Homo sapiens: one gene and its partners. The protein of the gene in region 1 purifies or fractionates together with the protein of each later gene. This does not show direct contact. Each region holds a gene or a part of one and is shown in the gene's direction. Other genes may lie near its edges.

Region 1 (8,030 bases):
AAATAGACATAAGAACAATTTCCTCTTACTTTGCATCTGCCAGTCCACAGACCATGCTGGCCTCTGTTTTTCTTTTTTTGAGATGGGGTCTTGCTCTGTCACCCAGATTGGAGTGCAGAGGCACAATCACACAGCTCACTCCAGCCTCGACCTCCTGGGCTCAGGCAATCCTGTCTCAGCCTCCCTGGCAGCTGGGACAACAGGCATGCACCACTGCGCCTAGCCACTGTTAGTTTTTAGTTAAGTGTAGAGAGTCCAGCATGGGCCAGGCCTGGTGGCTGATGCCTGTAATCCCAGCATTTTGGGAGGCTTCGGCAGGAGGATCAGTTGAGCCTAGGAGTTTGAGACCAGCCTTGGCAACATAGTGAGACCCTGTCTTTACTAAATAAATAAATATATAAATATATATATATTAGCTGGGCATGGTGGCATGCACCTGTGGTCACAGTTACTCAGGAGGCTGAGGTGGGAGGATCCCTTGAATCCAGGAGTTCCAGGCTGCAGTGAGCTATAATTATACTTCTGTTGTCTATTCTAGGCAACAGGGCAAGACCCTGTCTCTAAAGCAAACAAACAATTTTTTAAAAATGGTGACAATATCCACGCTGACTTAGGGTGACTATAGATTAGGCATAGTTCCGAGTCTCTCCCTCCTTTGACTGTCACTTGTTAGGGAAGAAGTGGTTATTACCTACATTTTACAGGTGAGAAGACTGAGGCCCAGGGCAGGGAAGCCTTAATCTAAGGTCTCAGAGCTGTAGGAAGTGGAGCCGGGGTGACACCAGGACTCCTTTTGGAGGAAGACTCAGGAAAGATGCAGAATACGTGTTTTTTTTTTTTTTTTTTTTTTTTTTTGAAACAGAGTCTTACTCCATCACCCAGGTTGGAGAGCAGTGGCGTGATCTTGGTGATCTTGGCTTACTGCAACCTCTGCCTCCCGGGTTCAAGTGATTCTCTCTTGCCTCAGCCTCCCAAGTAGCTGGGACCACAGGCAGCTAAGTTTTGTATTTTTAGTAGAGATGAAGTCTTGTCATGTTGACCAGGCTGGTCTCGAACTCCTGACCTCAGGTGATTCACCTACCTCGGCCCCCTAAAGTGCTGGGATTACAGGCGTGAGCCACCGAGCCTGGCCCAGAATGCAGTTAATCTAATAACAACACCTACTTCTTCAGCGCTTTCTGCCTGCCGATTCTTTTATATTTAAAGGCTCTTGGCATCTGTCTGCTTTTAAAGCTCAGGGCAACCCTGAAAGGTGAGTTCTGGTGCCTTTCTTTCTTTCTCTCTCTCTCTCTCTCTCTTTCTTTTCTTTCTTTCTTTCGACGGAGTCTCGCCCTGTTGCCCAGGCTAGAGCGCAGTGGCACTATCTCTGCTCACTGCAACCTCCACCTCCCGAGTTCAAGCAATTATCCTGTCTCAGCCTCCTGAGTAGCTGGGACTACAGGCGCCAACCATCATGCCTGGCTAATTTCTGTATTTTTAGTACAGATGGGGTTTCGCCATATTGGCCAGGCTGGTATTGAACTCCTGACCTCAAATGATCCACCTGACTCGGCCTCTCAAACTGCTAGGATTACAGGCGTGAGCCACCGTGCCCAGCCTGGTGCATTGCATTTCTTATTATCCATATTTTCAGTTAAGCAAACTGAGCCTCAGAGTGGAGGAGCTGATTGCTCAAGGTCTGTTTTCCATATGAATCCCTGCCTGGTATGTAGCTCACTCACAAAGGAAGAAAAACTTTCTGCCTGGACTGGAAGGGCAAGGAGAAGCCTGTGTGGCCATGGGAGTGGAGGAAACAGCTAAGCACAAAGGCCCAGAGGCTGGAAACTGCTTAGCCTGTAGGAAGAGCAGCAGGGAGGAACCCCAGGGCTGGAGCAGTGTGATTGAGGGGCAGGTGGCTGGAGAGATGGGCAGGGCCTCCTAGGCATGGGGTGACTGACGCACCAGTGGTCTGCAAAAACGGAGCATCACACCAGTGCGCATGAGCTCTCCTGCCCCTTGGGGGGGCCTTCCTTGCTCCTGCAGCTGAACTCCCTACACAGCCTGACACCCATCTTTCCTCAGGCCAACTTTGGCCTGTGGTGCCCCAGGAGTTGATGTACAGATGCCTCAGGACATGCCATGAGGAAGAGAGAGACGAGATGGGGTGACTCATGCCTGAAATCCCAGCACTTTAGGAGGCCAAGGCAGGAGGATTGCTTGAAGGCTGGGAGTTAGAGACCAGCCTGGCCAACATAGCAAGACCCTGTCTCTACAAAAAGAGAAAGAAACAGAGAGAGAGAGAAGGAAAAGTGTTTTCTTTGCAAATCTATTCTAATACTTTCATAGAGAAGAGTTTTAGTTTGGTGTTAACCTGTCTTTAATAATCCTCTAAGGACCAGCACAGTGGCTCACGCTTATAATCCCAGCACTGTGGGAGGCCAAGGCTGTAGGATCCCTTGAGCTCAGGAGTTCGAGACCATCCTGGGAAAAACGGCAAGACCCTATCTGTACCAAAAAATAAAAATAAAAAATTAGCCAAGTGCAGCGGCGTGCACCTACAGTCCCAGCTACTTGACAGGCTAAGCAGGGGAGGATCGCTTGAGTTCAGGAGTTCAAGGTTGCAGTGAGCTATCATTTACAAAGGTAGATTGAAATATTATTGATAGGCTGGGCACGGTGACTCACACCTGTAATCCCAGCACTTTGGGAGGCTGAGGTGGGCAGATCACCTGAGGTCAGGAGTTTGAGACTAGTTTGGCCAGCATGGCAAAACCCCATCTCTACTAAAAAATACAAAACTTAGCCAGGCGTCGTGGTGTGCACCTGTAATCCCAGATACTTGGAAAGCTGATGCAGAAGAATCGCTTGAAATCAGGAGGCGGAGGTTGCAGTGAGCTGAGATGGTGCCACTGCACTCCAGCCTCTGTGACAGAGCAAGACTGTCTCCAAAAAAAGAAAAAAATATATTATTGATAATCGCTGCATTGAAGGCCAGGCGCAGTGGTTTACGCCTACAATCGCAGCACTTTGGGAGCCTGAGGCAGGCGGATCACGAGGTCAGGAGTTCGAGACCAGCCTGACCAATATGATGAAACCTTGTCTCTACTAAAAATACAAAAGTTAGCCGGGCGTGGTGGCATGCACCTGTAATCCCAGCTACTCGGGAGGCTGAGACAGGAGAATCGCTTGAACCCAGGAGGCGGAGGTTGCAGCGAGCCGAGATGGCGCCATTGCACTCCAGTCTGGGCAACAAGAGCGAAACTCCGTCTCAAAAAGATAATCGCTGCATCTTACTGCCCAAGTTGCCACAAGCACACGTAACATCTGATGGTGCCAATTCGACTGTCTGCACTTGGAAAATGGCACATTGGAGGCTGCACAGCACCATAAAACTGATGCCACGAATGCACACAAAAATAAGACCATACAGCATTATGCCTAGTACAGAATACACCCTGAATTCTGTCACAGTTCACTTTATGCAACATTGCAAGAGTCCTCTCGCTCTTTATTATTATTTTTAATTTTTTTGAGATGGGGTCTCACTCTGTGACCAGGCTGGAGTGCAGTGGCCCGATCTTGGCTCACTGCAACCTCCTCCTCCTGGGTTGAAGCGATTCTCCTGCCTCAGGCTCCCCAGTAGCTGGGATTATGGGCGCCTGCCACCACACCCGGCTAATTTTTGTATTTTTAGTAGAGACAGGGTTTCATCATGTTGGCCAGGATGGTCTGATCTCTTGACCTCGTGATCCACCCGCCTTGGCCTCTCAAAGTGGTAGGATTACAGGCGTGAGCTGCCGCGCCCAGCCATTAATTTTTTTTTTAATTTTGTTTTTAACTTTTAGGTTTGGGGGTAAATGTGAAGGTTTGTTAAATAGGTAAACACTTGTCATGGAGGTTTGTTGTACAGATTATTTCATCACCCAGGTATTAAGCCCAGTACTCAATACTTATCTTTTTGTTTTTTGAGATGGAGTCTCAGTCTATCTCCCAGGCTGCGGTGCAGTGGCGTGATCTCGGCTCACTGCAACCTCCGGCTCCTGGGTTCAAGCGATTCTCCTGCTTCAGCCTCCCGAGTAGCTGGGATTACAGGCGCCCGCCACCACGTCCAGCTAATTTTTTTATTTTTAGTAGAGACGCGGTTTCACCATGTTGGCCAGTCTGGTCTCGAACTCCTGACCTCAGGTGATCCGCCGCCTCGGCCTCCCATACCCAAAGTGCTGGGATTACAGGAGTGAGCCATCGCGCCTGGCCCCATTATTAGTGAATTTTAACAGTTTTCCGTTTCTTCTGGACGAACTGTTTGCAATTATAATGCGAATTACGGATAATACTCTGATATTATTCCATGCCGTTCCGTTGTTGCCTACAAAGTTCGCGCTGGAGAACCGCGCAATTGCGTTACAAAAAGAAAAAAATCACACAAAAAGACACAATGTTTTAAGAAAGTTTACGAATCGTGTGCCGGACCGCGGGTTGAACAAGCTTCATCTAAAACTTCCAGGAATCTCTAGACAGGATCATTGCTTCCCCTCTGCTCCAGCTCTGGTTACAGAAAGCTGAGAGTGACTAGGTCTAGGTGTTTGTGTGGGGTGGGGTGGGGAGATGCCTCCTCTATCGGACTCAGAGGACGCGCGCCGGGAACAGCCAGTCGGTGCCTAACGCGAGTGTATCTCGAGAGAGAAGCGATCAACAGCTGCCGGTCTGCGCCTGCGCGCGGCGGGGGCGTGGCCCGGGGCGAGTGGGGCCAAGGAGGCAGCCGGGAGCGGCGGGCGCAGGTGTTACTGGTTGCGTCGGGTCACGTGGGCGCGCAGGCGCAGCGCGGTGCAGCCCGTTCGCTCACACAAAGCCCAGACGCGGAGAAAATGGCGGCAGGGGTCGAAGCGGCGGCGGAGGTGGCGGCGACGGAGATCAAAATGGAGGAAGAGAGCGGCGCGCCCGGCGTGCCGAGCGGCAACGGGGCTCCGGGCCCTAAGGGGTGAGTATCCCACGGTCCTTTGCCACGGGTAAGGGTTCCTCTCCGCGGCCGACGCGGGCGGCGGCTCCGTTAGGTCTGTTGGCGGCCTAGCCCCGGCGCGGCCTCGGCCCCGGCTGTTCCCGTACCGCCTGCTCAGGGTAGCGGCGTCTAGGGCCGTGAGCGGGGAGCCGGGGGAGCCTCCAGAATCGTCCCCTACACCGGGCCTCGAGCCTCGCCACCCTCAGTCCCTCCAGGCCGGGGCCAACCCCGTAGTCGAGGCCTCAGGCCCAGCTGCTGCGCATGGGGGTTGATGGCGCGGGCCCGGACCGGAGAGCCTCCGAGGCCTACCCGACCGCTCCCCGGGAGGGTGACCTCGGGGGCCGGGTTTCAGCCCCCCGTCCCCTCTCCTCCCGGGGTCTGTTTTCTGATCCGTAACGTGGGGGGAGGAGAGAGGGTGCGCGCCCGGGAGGCCTCGCGCGCAGTCAGCCCGAGTCAACGGTAACCGAGCGAGGGAAGCGTCAGGAAGGGCCGCGAAGCCGGGTCGGGGGGCTCCCCTCCTGCCCCGCCCCTTAGTCCCCGCGCGCCGACCGCGCTCCGCGGGAAGTGCCTCCCTCGGAACCGCCCCTCGCCCCACGCTCTGGCCCTGGCTCAAGTCCCTCGCCGTTTCCCGCTCCTCCTCCCCGGGTGCGCCGCAGGTATTAGTGGAGAGATGGGATCTGCTGCTTAGCGTTCACCCTCGGAAGCAGACAGATACGAAGTCGGGGGAGGAATCCCCTTTTTCCCGTGTTTCGGGGAAGCTGTTCTGTCAGGAGGCGGGTTCATTTACTTCCAGACTTCATCAGCTTTTCGAGTCCTGCTTGGGGCTCTTTGACTCCTTGGCTTTTAAAAGTTTCTTTAAAGGAGGAAGCATCGACTTGTGCCCCGGTGAAACTCATTCATTCTGATTACAGACACTTAAGAGAGACAGAGAGGTTTTGGCTCCAAGATCAGCGGCCGGGAAGGAAGGGGAAGCCTGGGTACACATTGAATTTCCCAGACATTTATTTCATTGTGGTAAAATAGACATAACGTAGACTTTGCCATTTTAACCATTTTTTAAGCGTATAATTCAGTGGCATTGAGTATACTGACTCAGTGTGCTGTAACCGTCACTGCTTCATGTCCAGAACTTTTTCATCATCGGAAACAGAAAGTGTAGCTATTAAATACTAACTCCCTCCGTTTTCTTTCCTTTCTGTCTGTGACTTTGCCTTCCTCATATTGTAATGTGTGAAGCTTAGTTTATGGAGATTAAAAGTGAATGCGGTTGAGCACTTATATATTTAATTTTTTTCTTTGAGACAGGGTCTCCCTCTGTTACCCAAGCTGGGATGCAGTGGCACGATCACAGATCACTGCAGCCTCGAACTCCTGGGCTCAATCGATCCTTCCATCTCAGCCTCCTGAGTAGCTGGGATCACAGGCGCGGCACCACCATGCCCGGCTAATTTTTTGAAGAGAGGAGGTCTCCGGGTGTTGCCCAGGCTGGTCTGAAACTCCTGGGTTCAAGCCATCCTCCTGCCTAGGCCTTCCAAAGTGCTGAAGTTACAGGCATGAGCTACTGCGCCCTGCCTAGTTGAGCGCTTAGGTTAAGAACGTTCCCTAAGTGCTAGCTATATTGGTAGATAATAAATCCGGAGAAAATTCCAGATTCTTTCCCTCCTTAAGTAGGGAGAAATAAAATACCATGGTTACTGGCCCTTAGAAATGAGAAAAACTTCCTCTATTCCCAGCATTTTACTATTGAAAACTCTGGGAAGGAATGTGTTAATTTTGACTTTTTCAGCGTCTATCTACGGAAGCTGGTAGGATTTCTGAGGGTGGTATTTGGAGGGCTTTAAGATAAATTTATTTACCGTATGCAGGAAGGAGTGCTGGTAGAACCTTGCTAGATGATAGGGTAAATTAATAGATTACAAATTTTCCCTTTTCCCCTGTCCATTTTCAAATAGTCATTTTGTGACTGAGTCATTTTACAAATACATGTGGACTGTTGGAACCTGAAAATTGTAGAATAAAATAGCCGTTGTGAGAAAGAGGCTCAAAGTCTCAAAGTCTAGTACTAGCTTCATAGAGGATAGTTTAGGAAGCTGGCAACACTTGGATATTTTTGATAGGGCCTGTGGAAAACTTTTTTTTTTTTTTTTCATTACAAGTCTTAAGGAAATCTCTTTAGAAGCCTATACTTTTGCACTCCATGCAGAGTGGAGAGGCCATTAACATATTTGTATGTTATGTATGTTATGTAATTACCATAACATAAGGTAATTATGCTGTGATAGAAGTTAGTGGAGTTGCTTGGTAGAAAGAATGGAGGAGGTGACCTCCGCCACCTGCTGGGGGCAGGGACCTGTTCCTCCATGACAGGAAGACGTGTGGAAGTGGAGGAGAAGAAGATGGTTGGGGAGGGGCAGGGAAGAGAGTATCCAAAGAGCAGAGATTTGAGTGTATGCTTTATCGAGAACTGAAGTTGTGCTGGGTGTAGTGGCTCACACCTGTAATCCCAGCACTTTGGGAGGCTGAGGTGAGAGGACTATTTGAGCTCAGGAGTTCAAGACCAGCCTGGGCAACATGGTGAAACCCTGTCTCTACCAAAAAAAAGAAAAAACAAAACAGGCTGGGCCCGGCGGCTCACGCCTGTAATCTCAGCACTTTGGGAGGCCGAGGCGGGCAGATCACGAGGTCAGGAGATAGAGACCATCCTGGCTAACACGGTGAAACCCCGTCTCTACTAAAAATACAAAAAATTAGCCGGGCGTGGTGCCGGGCTCCTGTAGTCTCAGCCACTGGGGAGGCTGAGGCAGGAGAATGGCGTGAACCTGGGAGGCAGAGCTTGCAGTGAGCCGAGATTGGGCCACTGCACTCCAGCCTGGGCGACAGAGCGATACTCCTTCTTCAAACAAACAAACAAACAAGAACACTGAAGTTGCTATAGAGTTTTAAGGTTGGAGCACTGGCAGCCAGCTGATGGGCAGTGAATTTGGATTTTTATCTTGAAAGCCTTTGAGAGACAGGAGAAAAATAGAAACTTGGTTCTTTGGAATTCTTTCTCTAC
Region 2 (7,000 bases), on another chromosome or scaffold:
TTAGTGTCTTCTTTAGTCTCAGAGTGCATTGTAAATGCAAAATTATTAGTCCTCACCTGCAGCAGAGATGTGGCATGCAGCTCCAGGGCAGGAACCCAGGCCTCTCTGAGTAAGACCTACTTTTCTCCCCCTTAGGTTGATGTTCTGTATCACTGAAGCCTGTTTTGAATCTCTGCTGGCCCCCCAGTATCTGCAGAAGAGACCTTATACCCTGTTTTTTTTGGAGACGGAGTCTCACTCCGTCGCCCAGGCTGGATTGCGGTGGCACGATCTTGGCTCCCTGCAACCTCAACCTCCTGGGTTCAAGGGATCTCTTGCCTCAGCCTCCCGAGTAGCTGGGACTACAGGCATGCACCATCACGCCTGGGTAATTTTTGTATTTTTAGTACAGATAGGGTTTCACCACGTTGGCCAGGCTGGCTTCGAACTCCTGAACCTCAGGTGATCCTCCTGTCTTGGCCTTCCAAAGTGCTGGGATTACAGGCATGAGCCACCACGCCAGGCTATTACACCCTTAAAATAGAACCGAGATAACTCCCCACCCTCACCTTGTTTGCACCTGCCCTTCTGACAGTCCAGGGTTTGGGGATATTGGGCTGCAGTTATCAGGAATAACAGTGCAGTGACAGCAGCTTGGATCAAAACTACTCAGAATGATTAAGTAGATCACCTTTATGAAATGTTCCCTCTTTCTTCCCCCTTTTTCCATAGAGGCACACAGGAGGGATTAGCTTTTGGGTTCTTGGAGGATGTTTATGGATACTCACTGCTTGCAGTTGGTTAAGATGGAGTTAGATGCTGCATATAGCCTTTCAAAATGCCCTTTGACCGTTTTCTGTGTTGGTCCATTTAGGGGAGTGGGCTCTTCATGTTTATGAAGATGGTTGGAATATTGTCCTGATAACAACTGGGGGTTGGGAGAGGCAGTGTCTCAGAGATGGTTAATAGGGTAACAAACACATGATCATGTGTCTGGTCATGTCACACTCTCCTTAAAAATCTGATGGCCCCAACATTGCCTGCATATTAAAGTTCAAACAAATATGACCCATGAGGTCAGTGTGTTGAATTTATTGAATAGAATCTTGTAGTTGAGGGACCTTACAGTCATTTAGACCAGCCACCTGGCTGACATTTGAGTTGGTTACTTGTTGAGATTGTCTTTCTTTGGATACCTCATTTTTGGAAAGTTTTTCATTCACTGAAGAATTAATGAGCCTCTGTTAGACCTGGTGCTACGCTTAGGGATTTGGGTTTGTATAGCGTAGTGGGAAAGATAGGCAAGGAAACAGGCAGTGTGAGAAGTGTTGTCACAGGGACAGACACCAGGAGAGCACAGAAAAATGATGCCTAACCCAGCATTGGAAGGTCAGGGAAGGCTTTTTAGGAGGAGAAGTTGGTTAAGCCTAGCCCTCAAGAGAACAGACATAAGCCAGGAAAAGAAGAGATCTGGGGAGTCAGGGAAGAGGCAGAGATAAGACTGTTCTAGGTAGAAGGAACAGTAAGTTCAGAAATGGTGATAATAGGTTAAGACCATCCCGAAAGTACGTACTGTTACTATTCCCATTCTGTAGTTGAAGGAAACGGGCCAAGAGAGCTAAACAAATTTCTCAGGATTCTTGGGTGGAGCATAATGCTTGAGGTGGGTGGATATGGCCAGACAGGAGACTTTCAAGGTAGGCAGAGCAGAGGCCAAGTCAGGAAAGGGCCTTCTTGCCTGTGTTGAGGAGTTTGGACTTCATCCGGAGGTGAGGGGGCCATGATTCAATGTGCATTTTGGAAGGATATCTCTGGCTGCCTGTTCAGGAGCGGACTGGAGAGCTAGAACACTGTGGGCAGAGAGACCAGTTAGGAGGTTGGCAAGAGGTGATGGTGTTTCAAATGAAGGTTGTGGGAGAGCGTGTGCAAGAGTGTGTGCAGAAAAAAGATGGAATTGCTGGGCGTGGTGGCTCACGTTTGTAGTCCTAGCACTTTGGGAGGCTGAGGTGGGTGGATCACCTGAGGTCAGGAGTTTGAGACTAGCCTGGCCAACGTGGTGAAACCCCGTCTCTACTAAAAATAAAAAAAAAATTAGTCGGGTGTGGTGGCAGGCACCTGTAATCCCAGCTATGTGGGAGGCTAAGGCAGGAGAATCACTTGAACCTGGGAGGTGGAGGTTGCAGTGAGCTGAGATCGAACCACTGCACTCCAGCCTGGGTGTGAGACTCCATCTCAAAAAAAAAAAAAAAAAAGGAAAGAAAAAAGGTGGAATTGAGTGATGAGACAAAGATTATTGGTGTGGAGGGTAAGGAAGGAATCGGGATGACATCTGGTTTCTACCTGGTGCAGTTTTGTAAATGGGTGCTGTTTATTGAGGTGAGGACACAGGAGAAGAAGGAGCACGTAAGGGAGGGGGTAGGGTTTCTTATGCAGGGTCTCCTTACATATGCTTTCACTTACCTCTGGTTATGGATTCTAGTTCTTTGTGTCAGGTCTGAAAGGGAGAGAGTGAGAGTATGGCACAACTGGTCATGTTCCTGGCTAAACTGGATGATGCAAACATTAGTTTAGGAAGAGAGGAGATATTCAATCCTAGACATCCGGGTGTGGCACAGCCTGGAAACTGCTTACGTTAAGCCAAGAAAAGTTTACATTTTATCCAGGCTACATCCTTTGGCACTGGTCTTTTCGTGTACTAGTGTATTCCTAAGTCCCTCTCTAAGCCGAAGCCACTTCTCTGCTTACTCTCTGCTAGGCACTGGGAAAACAAAGATAAGTAAAACGTATCCTAAGGAGCTCATGATCCAGAAGGGCAGAAGTCTCAGTAGCTTGGATACAGCGGTGGCCTGGGGAGAGGGTGGATGGGGCAGGGCAGGGTAGGACAGGATGGAGAGGGACCCGGAAGGGTTTCTATTAGGGATAGGAGTCAGGAGACCCCACTGTGTGCTCCAGTCTTTTTCTCGGGTGGCACGTGTCTAGGTTTATTCATCTGAATAATGACTAGATGACCCATAAGGTCCCTTCTAGCAATTACATTTTATGATTCTAGGTGGTGGTTTAGATAATATATCTCTAGGAGAGGTATTTCTTTCTTCTTCTCCCCCTTCTTAGTTTGGCATTGGTGAGGGGATATAGTAGGGGTGGAGATAGCAAGGTTTTCACTTGAGTGTCTTGGTCTTATTCAATTTTGGCTTCATGTCTATATAGCTGGAAGGGAGAAAATGACAGCCGTAATGTTAACCTGCTTGTCCTACAACTTCCCCCTGGGTACTGTAAGGAAATTGTGCTCAGGGTGCAGCTCACAGACCCTTAGGAATAGAGACAGAGTGCAGTGGAATAAATAGGAAGTCTTGTCACTAGCCTGAGCATCGTTTGGTCAGTGTGTGGGCTGGACTAAGGTCCTTTCTTTTTATAGCCCTGTTTCCTCATAAAATCATCTGGGGGGGTCCCTGAAATTCTATAAAGGCCCAAAGAGTGGGGGTGGGGAGGTAGGGACAGAAAAAGGGTTGGAGGTCCCTGTCTCTCTCACTTCTCCCCTCTCTTCGAACGAATAAGTAGAAGCAGGTATCTGGCCAAGTATTAATGTTGGTCATCTTTTGTTTCCACAGCCTTGCCTTATTTCCTCAGTGTTAGTGTCTTCTGTCATTTCATAATGGCTTTCATGGTAATCAATGTCCTGTACCTCCTGGGAGGAAGGAAGGAAAGATGGGATATTGTCCCTGGGCTCTAGTCTCCATCTCCAGAAGAGCCATTTAAGACATCCACTGCCCCCTGTTCTCTATTCTGGGGTTGGGGTAGGGGGTTGTGGCTGAATACTTGGGTTTCTTAGAGGGTACATACTTGAGTTTCCTAGGGAGTGCTCTACTAACTAAAGTGCAAATCTGGCTATCTTCCCAACACACCAATGAGTTTGACTGGGGAAAATAGCAGTCAGTGGGCTTTTGTTGCTTGCCAAACCCATGTTAATTGTAATTATCTAATATTCTGTGGGATCTCTGTCTTCCTGTCTGTGAAACAAGGGAATTGGACTAGATAATCTTGAGTGATATTTCTACCTTTTTACAGTTTTGTGGAAGTGGCTTGAGAATTTATCTCTGGAAGGAGAAAGGGCTTTGCTAAAGTATTGAGAGTATCTCAGAGGGTTAAATTCTGGGTTCACAAAAGATACCTTTCAGTATATAAACAGATGGATATTGCTTTTTAGAGTGGACAGATTGCTGAAAAATTGCTTGTGAGATGAATTTATCAAATTGTATGCTGAGTTCCATTATAAACTTGGAGCTGTAGCCTCATGGGACAAACTTGGAGTCCAAGACTATAAAAAAATTACATTAAAATATGTAGCAAACTGTTTAAAATCACATAATAAAGGAAAAATAAAAAACATTTTAAGATTTTCACACAATGGTAATAATGGAAAAACACTAGACCAGAAACTTGCATTTCCTAAGAGCTTTAGCTTATGGAGTAGATGCCTCTACTGAGGTTACCTGGCCCTTGAAGTGCCATCTGTAGAGACTGAATAGCTCTGTTATTTGTCAAGGTAAGACTCATTGCTTTATTCCAAGTAAATATTCTCTTTTAGAATGCCAGGTTTGGAAGCTTAATGTTATTGGCCAGATTTTCTTCATTCCAGAGGCATTTATCTGGTATTTAGCTGTCTCCTGTTTATTTTATTAAGGATTTTAATAAGCTTAGTTAACGGTACTGCTTACATGGTGTCTCTTGATCTATTTGTCTAGTTTCCTTTGAAATTCTTTGTGTTAGTGAAAGCAAGCCCAGCAGTAGATTTAAAAGGGTCATTTCCATAACTTCATTTATCTAGATTTGGGTTTTTTTGGTAAGAGATATGACCACACTATACTGAGAAATCGAATGTTGTTTCCTTTTTTTTTGAGACGGAGTCTCGCTCTGTTGCTCAGGCTGGAGTGCAGTGGCATGATCTCCGCTCACTGCAAGCTCTGCCTCCCGGGTTCATGCCATTCTCCTGCCTCAGCCTCCTGAGTAGCTGGGACTGCAGGTGCCCACCACCACGCCCGGCTAATTTTTTTGTATTTTTAGTAGAGACGGGGTTTCACAGTGTTCGCCAGGATGGTCTCGATCTCCTGACCTGGTGATCTGCCCACCTCGGCCTCTCAAAGTGCTGGGATTACAGGCGTGAGCAGCCGCGCCTGACCACGTCGTTTCCTTTTTACCTGAAGCATTAATTTAAGGCTTTGGAATTTTGTTTTTGCGGATACCTGTAAGGTGGTACTGAGGAATGGTGCTGCTGCCAAAGTAATAATGAGGGCTGTGCGTGAATCAGTTGAGCACAAGAATAACTTCTCTTCAGACTTTAAAGATTCACCCTAATTGATTCTTACACCAATTAAAATCAACCCTTACTAAAATTAGGGTTCAGAGGAAGTTACTTAGTTGCCGTGGCATGATTATTTATGCTTGGGAGTCCCAACAGCCTTCCATCCCTAATCTCAACCATTCGTTCCAGGAATTTGGAGTACCTCCTATATGTTCTTCTTATGGAAAACATAAAAACCAACAAGACATAATTCCTGTCCACAAATTACTTTCAGTCTTGAGAGGAAGACAGATAAGTAAAGCAAATCCAGCCTGCCGCCCTGGCTCATATATTTGGATTGAGGGTTCAAACGGAAAATAACATAATTGGTGGCTGTATCAGTAGACAAGGAGACCAGTTTGATAATCTGACTTCCAGTGTGTAGACTTTATTTTTTTGGCATTCCCTTCTCTCCCTTCTGTTTTTTACAGATATTTATCCTCTGTTGCTAAGGTGTCCAACACCCAGTGTGTAAAGTCAAGAATATTAGAGTAGGGGACAACATTTCCTTTCAGGTTTAGGTGTCCAGATATCTGCATCTGGACACCCACACAGTTCTCTGGCTGGCTTCAGGAAGATTTGGTATTGTCTCGCTTCTTATGTAGAAATGAAGAAAATTAAGTTTCATGTTGAATTATTTTAAGTTTTATTATGCTCTATTTTGAAATAAAATAGCTCTATTTTGTATGCAGGTGGAATTATCTGAGGTGTGGTTTCTGGCATTTGATCAGTCTGTGATTTGATAATTGTGTTTATATTGTAGTTCGTGAAGCCCATTGCCACTGCCAGCCGCCTTTGAACACTTTGCAGCAAGGAGCCCTAGTAAATGGAAATGGTGGGCACATTGAGGCTCTCCTGGTTTTGAAGGGCTCTTCCCTCTTTCCTACCCTTCAGAGAGAAATATTACTTGGGATGCTGTGTTGTGCTCCCGATTTCTTCCAACAATTTAGCATTGCCTGTGGGGTCTGGAATAATAAGGCCATGTAAACTGGAGATGTCATCTTCTCTCTCTTTGAAGTTCCATTTTCTCATCTGTGAAGTGGGGTTAACACTCCATATCTTGCCTTCCTCACAATGGTATTGTGAGGAGCAAATTAGAACGTTGTAAAATCACATGAGACAATTTATATGTGAAGAATCCATCAGTCATTTGTCAGTGGTAATAGGTAAGTGGCAGAATTTTCCTTAAGAGGGGAGATCGATCTCTTTGTAGGGAGCAGGGAGAGTGATCTCAGCTGGTCTCTGGGATTGGGAAAAAGTGTGATGAAAGCATCTGGACAGGGGCAATGATGGAGCAAAAGACTGGAGGTGAACTGTTCAGCGGGAACAGTGAGTAAGTGTTCTCTAACCTCATACTGTAAGTCCTAGGTTAGGCATATGTTTACCTTTGGTAAATATGCCAAACAGTTTTTTTTTTTTTTTTTTTTTTTGAGACGGAGTCTCGCTCTGTCGCCCAGGCTGGAGTGCAGTGGCGGGATCTCGGCTCACTGCAAGCTCCGCCTCCCGGGTTCACGCCATTCTCCTGCCTCAGCCTCCCAAGTAGCTGGGACTACAGGCGCCCGCCACTACGCCTGGCTAATTTTTTGTATTTTTAGTAGAGACAGGGTTTCACCGTTTTAGCCGGGATGGTCTCGATCTCCTGACCTCGTGATCCGCCCGCCTCCGCCTCCCAAAGTGCTGGGA
Region 3 (7,625 bases), on another chromosome or scaffold:
GACAATCCTTTGTTCTGACATGGAGAGATATAATGTTACCGCTAGATCGGACACTAACCACAAATGAGAGAAGTGCCGCCATAACTGCAGCCCGAGAGTTTGGCGATATCTGGTATCTCAGTCAGGTCAATGATAGGATGACAACAGAGGAAAGAGAACGATTTCCCACAGGCCAGCAGGCAGTTCCCAGTGTAGACCCTCATTGGGATGCAGAATCACAACATAGAGATTGGTGCCACAGACATTTACTAACTGGCGTGCTAGATAGAAGGACTAAGGAAACTAGGAAGAAGCCTATGAATTATTCAGTGATGTCCACCATAACACAGGGAAAGGAAGAAAATCCTACTGCCTTTCTGGAGAGACTAAGGGAGGCATTGAGGAAGCATACCTCTCTGTCACCTGATTCTATTGAAGGCCAACTAATCTTGATAAGTTTATCACTCAGTCAGCTGCAGACATTAAAAAAAAAACTTCGGAAGTCCACCTTAGGCCCGGAGCAAAATTTAGAAACCCTATTGAACTTGGCAACTTCGGTTTTTTTATAATAGAGATAAGGAGGAACAGGCAGAACAGGACAAATGAGATAAGAAAAAGGCCACCGCTTTAGTCATGGTCCTCAGGCAAGCGGACCTTGGAGGCTCTGGAACATGGAAAGGCTGAGCAAATCGAATGCCTAATAGGGCTTGCTTCCAGTGCGGCCTGCAAGGACACTTTAAAAAAGATTGTCCAAGGCCGGGCGCGGTGGCTCACGCCTGTAATCCCAGCACTTTGGGAGGCCGAGGCGGGCAGATCACGAGGTCAGGAGATCGAGACCATCCTGGCTAACACGGTGAAACTCCATCTCTACTAAAAATACAAAAAATTAGCTGGGCGCGGTGGTGGGTGCCTGTAGTCCCAGCTACTCAGGAGGCTGAGGCAAGAGAATGGCGTGAACCCAGGAGGCGGAGCTTGCAGTGGGCCGAGATCACGCCACTGCACTCCAGCCTAGGCAAAAGAGTGAGACTCTGTCTCAAAAAAAAAAAAAAAAAAAAAAAAGATTGTCCAAATAGAAATAAGCCACCCCTTGTCGATGCCCCTTATGTCAAGGGAATCACTGGAAGGCCCACTGCCCCATGGGACGAAGGTCCTCTGAGTCAGAAGCCACTGACCAGATGATCCAGCAGCAGGACTGAGGGTGCCTGAGGCAAGCGCCAGCCCATGCCATCACCCTCACAGAGCCCTGGGTATGCTTGACCATTGAGGGCCAGGAGGTTAACTGTCTCCTGGAAACTGGCGTGGCCTTCTCAGTCTTACTCTCCTGTCCCGGACAACTGTCCTCCAGATCTGTCACTATCCGAGGGGTCCTAGGACAGCCAGTCACTAGATACTTCTCCCAGCCACTAAGGTGTGACTGGGGAACTTACTCTTTTCACATGCTTTTCTAATTATGCCTGAAAGCCCCACTCCCTTGTTAGGGAGAGACATTCTAGCAAAAGCAGGGGCCATTATACACTAGAATTAGGAGAAGGGAAAAGGGTAAATATATATACAGACTCAAAGTATGCTTACCTAGTCCTCCGTGCCCATGCAGCAATATGGAGAGAAAGTGAATTCCTAACTTCCAAGGGAACACCTATCAAACATCAGGAAGCCATCAGGAGATTATTATTGGCTGTATAGACACCTAAAGAGGTGGCAGTCTTACACTACCGGGGTCATCAGAAAGGAAAGGAAAGGAAAGAAGAAATAGAAGGGAACCGCCAAGTGGATATTGAAGCCAAAAGAGCCGCAAGGCGGGACCCTCCATTAGAAATGCTTATAGAAGAACCCCTAGTATGGGGTAATCCCCTCCAGGAAACCAAGCCCCAGTACTCAGCAGGAGAAATAGAATGGGGAACCTGACGAGGACATAGTTTCCTCCCCTCAGGATGACTAGCCACTGGAGAAGGAAAAATACTTTTGCCTGCAGCTAACCAATGGAAATTGCTTAAAACCCTTCACCAAACCTTTCACTTAGGCATTGATAGCACCCATCAGATGGCCAAATTATTATTTACTAGACAGGCCTTTTCAAAACTATCAAGTAGATAGTCAGGGCCTGTGAAGTGTGCCAAAGAAATAATCCCCTACACTACAGGCCATACATTTCAATCCCTGTATCTTTAACCTCCTTGTTAAGTTTGTCTGTTCCAGAATCGAAGCTGTAAAACTACAAATGGTTCTTTAAATGGAGCCCCAGATGCGGTCCATGACTAAGATCTACCGTGGACCCCTGGACCAGTCTGCTAGCCCATGCTGTGATGTTGGTGACATCAAAAGCAACCCTCCCGAGGAAATCTCAACTGCACAACCCCTACTATGCCCCAATTTAGCAGGAAGCAGTTAGAGCGGTCATCGGCCAACCTCCCCAACAGCACTTGGGTTTTCCTGTTGAGGGGGGCACTGAGAGACAGGACTAGCTGGATTTCCTAAGCCAACTAAGAATCCCTAAGCCTAGCTGGGAAGGTGACCGCATCCACCTTTAAACATGGGGCTTGCAACTTAGCTCGCACCTGATCAATCAGGTAGTAAAGAGAGCTCACTGAAATGCTAATTAAGCAAAAACAGGAGGTAAAGAAATAGCCAATCATCTATCGCCTGAGAGCACAGGAGGAGGGACAATGATCGGGATATAAACCCAGGCATTCGAGCCGGCAACAGCAACCCCCTTTGGGTCCCCTGCCATTTTATGGGAGCTCTGTTTTCACTCTATTAAATCTTGCAACTGCACACTTTTCTGGTCCGTGTTTGTTACGGCTTGAGCTGAGCTTTTCCTTACCGTCCACTACTGCTGTTTGCTGCTGTCGCAGACCCGCTGCTGACTTCCACCCCTCTGGATCTGGCAGGGTGTCTGCTGGGCTCCCGATCCAGTGAGGCGCCCATTGCTGCTCTGGATCAGGCTAAAGGCTTGCCATTGTTCCTGCGTGGCTAAGTGCCTGGATTTGTCCTAATTGAGCTGAATAGAGCTATAACACTCATTGCATGGCCCAAGATTCCATTCCTTGGAATGCGTGAGGCCAAGAAACCCAGGTCAGAGAACAAGAGGCTTGCCGCCATCTTGGAAGTGGCCCGCCACCATCTTGGGAGTTCTAAGAACAAGGACCCCTGCCACCCACCCCCCGTAACAATTGCACTTACTTTATTTGGTGTTCATAGTTTCCCTCTGAGACAAGATTTTTTATTTTTTATTTTTTTAGAGATGGGGTCTTGCTATGTTGCCCAGACTGGTTTTGAACTCCTAGCCTCAAATAATCCTCTCATCTTGGCCTCCCAAGTATTGGGATTACAGGTGTGAGCTATCCTGCTCGGCCCCTCTGAGATAAGCTTTAATATCCCTATTTCAAAATGAGTAAACTGAGGTTTGGAGTGGGTAAAGTGCTTCCTTCCTTCATTCATTCATTCATTCATCCATCCATCTATTCATTTATTCAACAGACATCTGAATGAGTAGCTACCCTGCATCAGGGTATGCCAACTCTGGGCATACGAAGATGATTAAGACAAAAATCCCTGTCCTCACAGTCCAGAATGAAGGACAGACACATAAAGATGAGTATAATACAAGGTGGATCATGAATTGTAGCTAATATTTATTGGGTACTTACTAAGTGCCAGTGACTGCTGTAAGCTCTTGGTGTGTTTTACTCCTTCAGTTCTCCCCAACCTCTGTTAGCTACATGTCTCATAGATTGATTCATAGATAAGACTGAAGCCTGGTGATTGTCTACGGTTTTATAAGTAGCAAGTGGCAGAGCCAGGATGAATACCCAGTGGATAGGTATTAGTGCCAGAGGTCCCACTTGGCCATCAAGCTCTACTGTCTCTGATGATAAAGTAGCAAACAGGGACCTAAGTTGGTTGGGGGGGGCGCTAACTCAGTCTGGCATTCACGGTGTTCAGGGGAGATTTCCTGAAGGACTAAGGAATTAGCTAGACAGAGGTGAGTGGGGGGGAGGGAGGGCCATCGCTGGGGAGGGCCAGACGTGGGAGCCACCTCCTGGAAATCTACACAGCATCTAGGCCAGGCAGGGACTGGAGCGTGTGAGGAAGCTGCGAAAGCAGGCAGGACCCAGCTTCCAAAGGAAAGTGGTCCGTATCCTAGAGGTAGCTGCAAGTTTGAAGGGTTTTACGTAGGGGAGAGACTTGGCCAGATTTTTAGAAAGATCACCGGGGAGCTGGGTGAAAGTGGATGGAAGGACAGAGACAAGCACTGAGGCAGTGAGTGGGGAGGAGAGAGGAGAAATTCAGGAAGAAGAGTTTTCCCCATGATGGTTATTCGGGGGTTAAGTAGAGGACAGGGAGCAGTTTTAGAGGACACCCAGCTTCTGCTCCTAATCAGGGGGATTGGGGTGATCTGATGAGGTCAGTATTGGATGTCAACCCAGTCTTCTGGCGCCCAGTCCGTGCCCTTTCGCCTCGTGGCACTGCCAGCAATAATGCCCGCGGGCCACGGGTGAACGTGAACCGAGCTCGCAGCCTCCAACCCCACCCCTCCGGCGGCGGCGACGTGCAGTGCATCACCCTGGGCACCAGGGGGCGTGCCCGCACACGCTCGGGCCGCTCTGGCCCAGCCCATCTCAGTGGTCGCGGAAGGTGACGTGGACACGGAAGTGGTCGTCGTCGCGGCACCGGTGGGAGCTAGGCGCGAGGCTCGGAGTGCGGCCAGCGGGCGGAGGCGGTCTCGCATCGGCGGCGACGGAGGGCTCAGGCGTCGTCGTTTGGGTGGGGGGCCGCTGAACTGACAAGCGACATTTCAGCTCCTTTCACCCGCCGGAACCCCGGAGCCGGGGCCCGCTCAGCCGGCGTTACCATGACCAAGGCCGGTAGCAAGGGCGGGAACCTCCGCGACAAGCTGGACGGCAACGAACTGGACCTGAGCCTCAGCGACCTGAATGAGGTCCCGGTGAAGGAGCTGGTCAGTATCGTCCCGCGAGGCCCAGGCGCCCACCTTCGCCGGGCGCTGGCCCCTACGTGGGCCACTTACTTTCCTCTTCTCTAAAAGCATCAGTTTCCTTTTCTTTAAAAAGAAGCGGGGTGGTGGGACTAAGTCCCCTAGGAGGCCGCGTCCAGCCCAAGGTTCTTCCCGGGATGTACACGTGTCACTTTGGCGCAGTTCCAGAACATAGGGAAGATCTGCTTCTCTGGCCCTAGGCTTTTTACAGGCTAAGAAGCGAATCTGTCACCTTTGCGGGGCTTTCACAGCGCCCACCTCCGTGCCCGACTCTGAGTAGGAGCACACGGAGCAGTTACTGGATGTATTCGAGAATGAATGAGTGACTTGTTCCAGGGGAGTAGGCCTCCTGGTAGACCTGGGTGTGGCCCAGAACCTGGCTCTTCTAGGAAGCTGGCAATTCCAGCTGGCTGCCCGAGCCCTGAGGCAGCCTAACTCGAAGAAAGTAAAGTCTCCCCCCAGCTTGGCTGGTAAACTGTCATCTGAATTCCGCTGAAACTGGCGGGAGTCCCTTTCGCCCCTCTCTCCCCCAACCTTTCCCCTGTAAACTGAAGCTTACAGCTCCAGAGAGATAGCAGGCATCTAGTTTTGTCAGCGTGGAGCTAGTTCCCACATCCCTCCTTTTCCCACTCCGTTCCCCCTCCCACCCGCGCCAACGCCCTACTAGACTCACTTTGGGTGACCCACACTTTGCTTTCTGCCGTTGATAAATTACATTTGCCTTGGGCGCTGGGCCCAGTCTTTCTTCCACCGTGGACGGGTATTACAGTGGTTAGAACCGGGTTCCTAGCTCCTCCCAGCTCCATTGCTTAATAGCCGAGTGCCCTTGGCAAGCTAGTTAGCCTTTATGCCTAGATCTCCTCATCTATACAATGGTGATAATAGTTTCCATCTCATACGCTTATTGGGAGGTTAAATACCATTGTAATGGAAAATGCTTGGAAGGAGCAAATACTGATACTTGTAGCTGTTGTTGTGTTTTTCCCGCTGTAGTATTTAAAACTTTTTTAGGTGGTCAAACTTCACTTTTACGACTTTGTGACAGAAAGTGCAGGTTGCCAGAGGATCCTTAACTGAATATATGCCTCCTTTTCTACCCCAGGAAGATAGATGGCCAGCCTTATTTCACCCTGCCCTAGGACTGCTCTCTGAAACCATATACTCCAGGCATCTGAACAGTCCAGCATTAACCTTAGGGAGAAAGTTTTGCTGAGCTTGTCCAGCCTGGACACCATGGGAAAATAGAGATGGGCTGTGAGGGCCTTTTTTTTTTTTGGATGATGGAGTTTTGCTGTTGTTGCCCAGGAGTGATCTCGGCTCACTGAAACCTCTGCCTCCCGGGTTCAAGCGATTCTCCTGCCTCAGCCTCCCGAGTAGCTGGGATTACAAGCGTGTGCCACCATGCCTGGCTAATTTTCTATTTTTAGTAGAGACAGGGTTTCTCCGTGTTGGTCAGGCTGGTCTCGAACTCCTGACTTCAGGTGATTGCCTGCCTCAGCCTCCCAAAGTGGTGGGATTACAGGCGTGAGCCACCGCACCCGGCAGGGCCTTGTTTTTTCACTCTGTCATTCACTCCGCTACTTACTCGATCAGTCATGATTCAGGCAACATGTATGGATATTGAGTACCTGTTCTGAGGAAGGGCCTGAACTGGGGAATATGGAAATTGCAAAGCTTTATTAGACACTGTCCCTGCCCTGAAACCTAATAAGAGGGACGCTGGGTAATATTTATTTTTAAAGTGCTAGGAATAATGTCTAAGAATCTAAATTTTGCTTGCCTGCCTGCCTGCCTGCCTTCCTTTCTTTTTTTTTTTTTTTGAGATGGGGTCTCACTGTGTTGTGCAGGCCGGCCTCAAACTCCTGAACTCCTGGGCTCAAGCGATCCTCCTGTCTCAGCTTTCTGAGTAGCTGAGACTATGAGACTACAGGTGTGAGTCCCTGTGCCTCGCCTAAGGTTTACCTTCTTGGAGGTTGTACAGCCACATCCCTTCTCTTTGCATTCTTCCTTAGATCATGGTTGACTGGCTTATTTTTCCTCTTATTCCCAGGAACATTACTCTTTACTGCCATTTTAAAAGGCCTTTCCTAATCATGGGAACATTCTCTGGAAAATGCTTCATTAACATATGTCAGTGAATTGTTCCAGATGTTGGTCTGACATGTTTTTCTCATCCTCTTTTACCTAGGCTGCCCTTCCAAAGGCCACCATCCTGGATCTGTCTTGTAATAAACTGACTACTCTACCGGTAAGATTGGCATGCAGCCGTGACTCCTTCTGGTGCCTTGGATGCATCTCCTTCCTGTTTCGGGGGTTGAGAGGGGGGTGGGAGGGTGTCATAAGGTGTAATTTCAGGATAGGCCTACAGGCAGGCTATAGCTAAATCTGAGTGTGTAGGGGAGGCACAGTGGAATGGAGTGGTTGGTCTCAGTGGGAAAGGAATTGAGATGGAGGCCTCATTCTTCAGAACAGTGGTAAAGTCAGTCCACAGAAAACTAAACTCAACAGGGTGCTGAGTAACTTACTGGGCTCATCTTTTTTCTACATTATTTTATTCCTCTGAAAAATAGTTTACCTCCCTACTGCATAGAGGATGCTAGAGACCATTTTGTAAGTTGCTCTGCGTTCCAGGGAGAAAGCTGTGAACAGCTTC

What was found.
Region 2: the proteins of HNRNPM (region 1) and RALY fractionate together in Homo sapiens (co-fractionation; 2 studies listed by BioGRID). This does not show direct contact.
Region 3: the proteins of HNRNPM (region 1) and LRRC59 purify together in Homo sapiens (affinity purification with mass spectrometry; 2 studies listed by BioGRID, with this or other methods). This does not show direct contact.

Annotation. Positions count from the first base shown.
Region 1 is NC_000019.10:8,440,155-8,448,184, forward strand, and holds the start of HNRNPM (heterogeneous nuclear ribonucleoprotein M), read left to right. Parts: upstream 1-4,820; 5' UTR 4,821-4,844; coding exon 4,845-4,957; intron 4,958-8,030. UniProt on the Homo sapiens protein: Pre-mRNA binding protein in vivo, binds avidly to poly(G) and poly(U) RNA homopolymers in vitro. Involved in splicing.
Region 2 is NC_000020.11:33,996,911-34,003,910, forward strand, and holds part of RALY (RNA-binding protein Raly), read left to right. Parts: intron 1-7,000. UniProt on the Homo sapiens protein: RNA-binding protein that acts as a transcriptional cofactor for cholesterol biosynthetic genes in the liver. Binds the lipid-responsive non-coding RNA LeXis and is required for LeXis-mediated effect on cholesterogenesis.
Region 3 is NC_000017.11:50,394,524-50,402,148, reverse strand, and holds the start of LRRC59 (leucine-rich repeat-containing protein 59), read left to right. Parts: upstream 1-4,625; 5' UTR 4,626-4,831; coding exon 4,832-4,936; intron 4,937-5,645; exon of another isoform or gene 5,646-5,742; intron 5,743-7,156; exon of another isoform or gene 7,157-7,160; coding exon 7,161-7,220; exon of another isoform or gene 7,221-7,225; intron 7,226-7,625.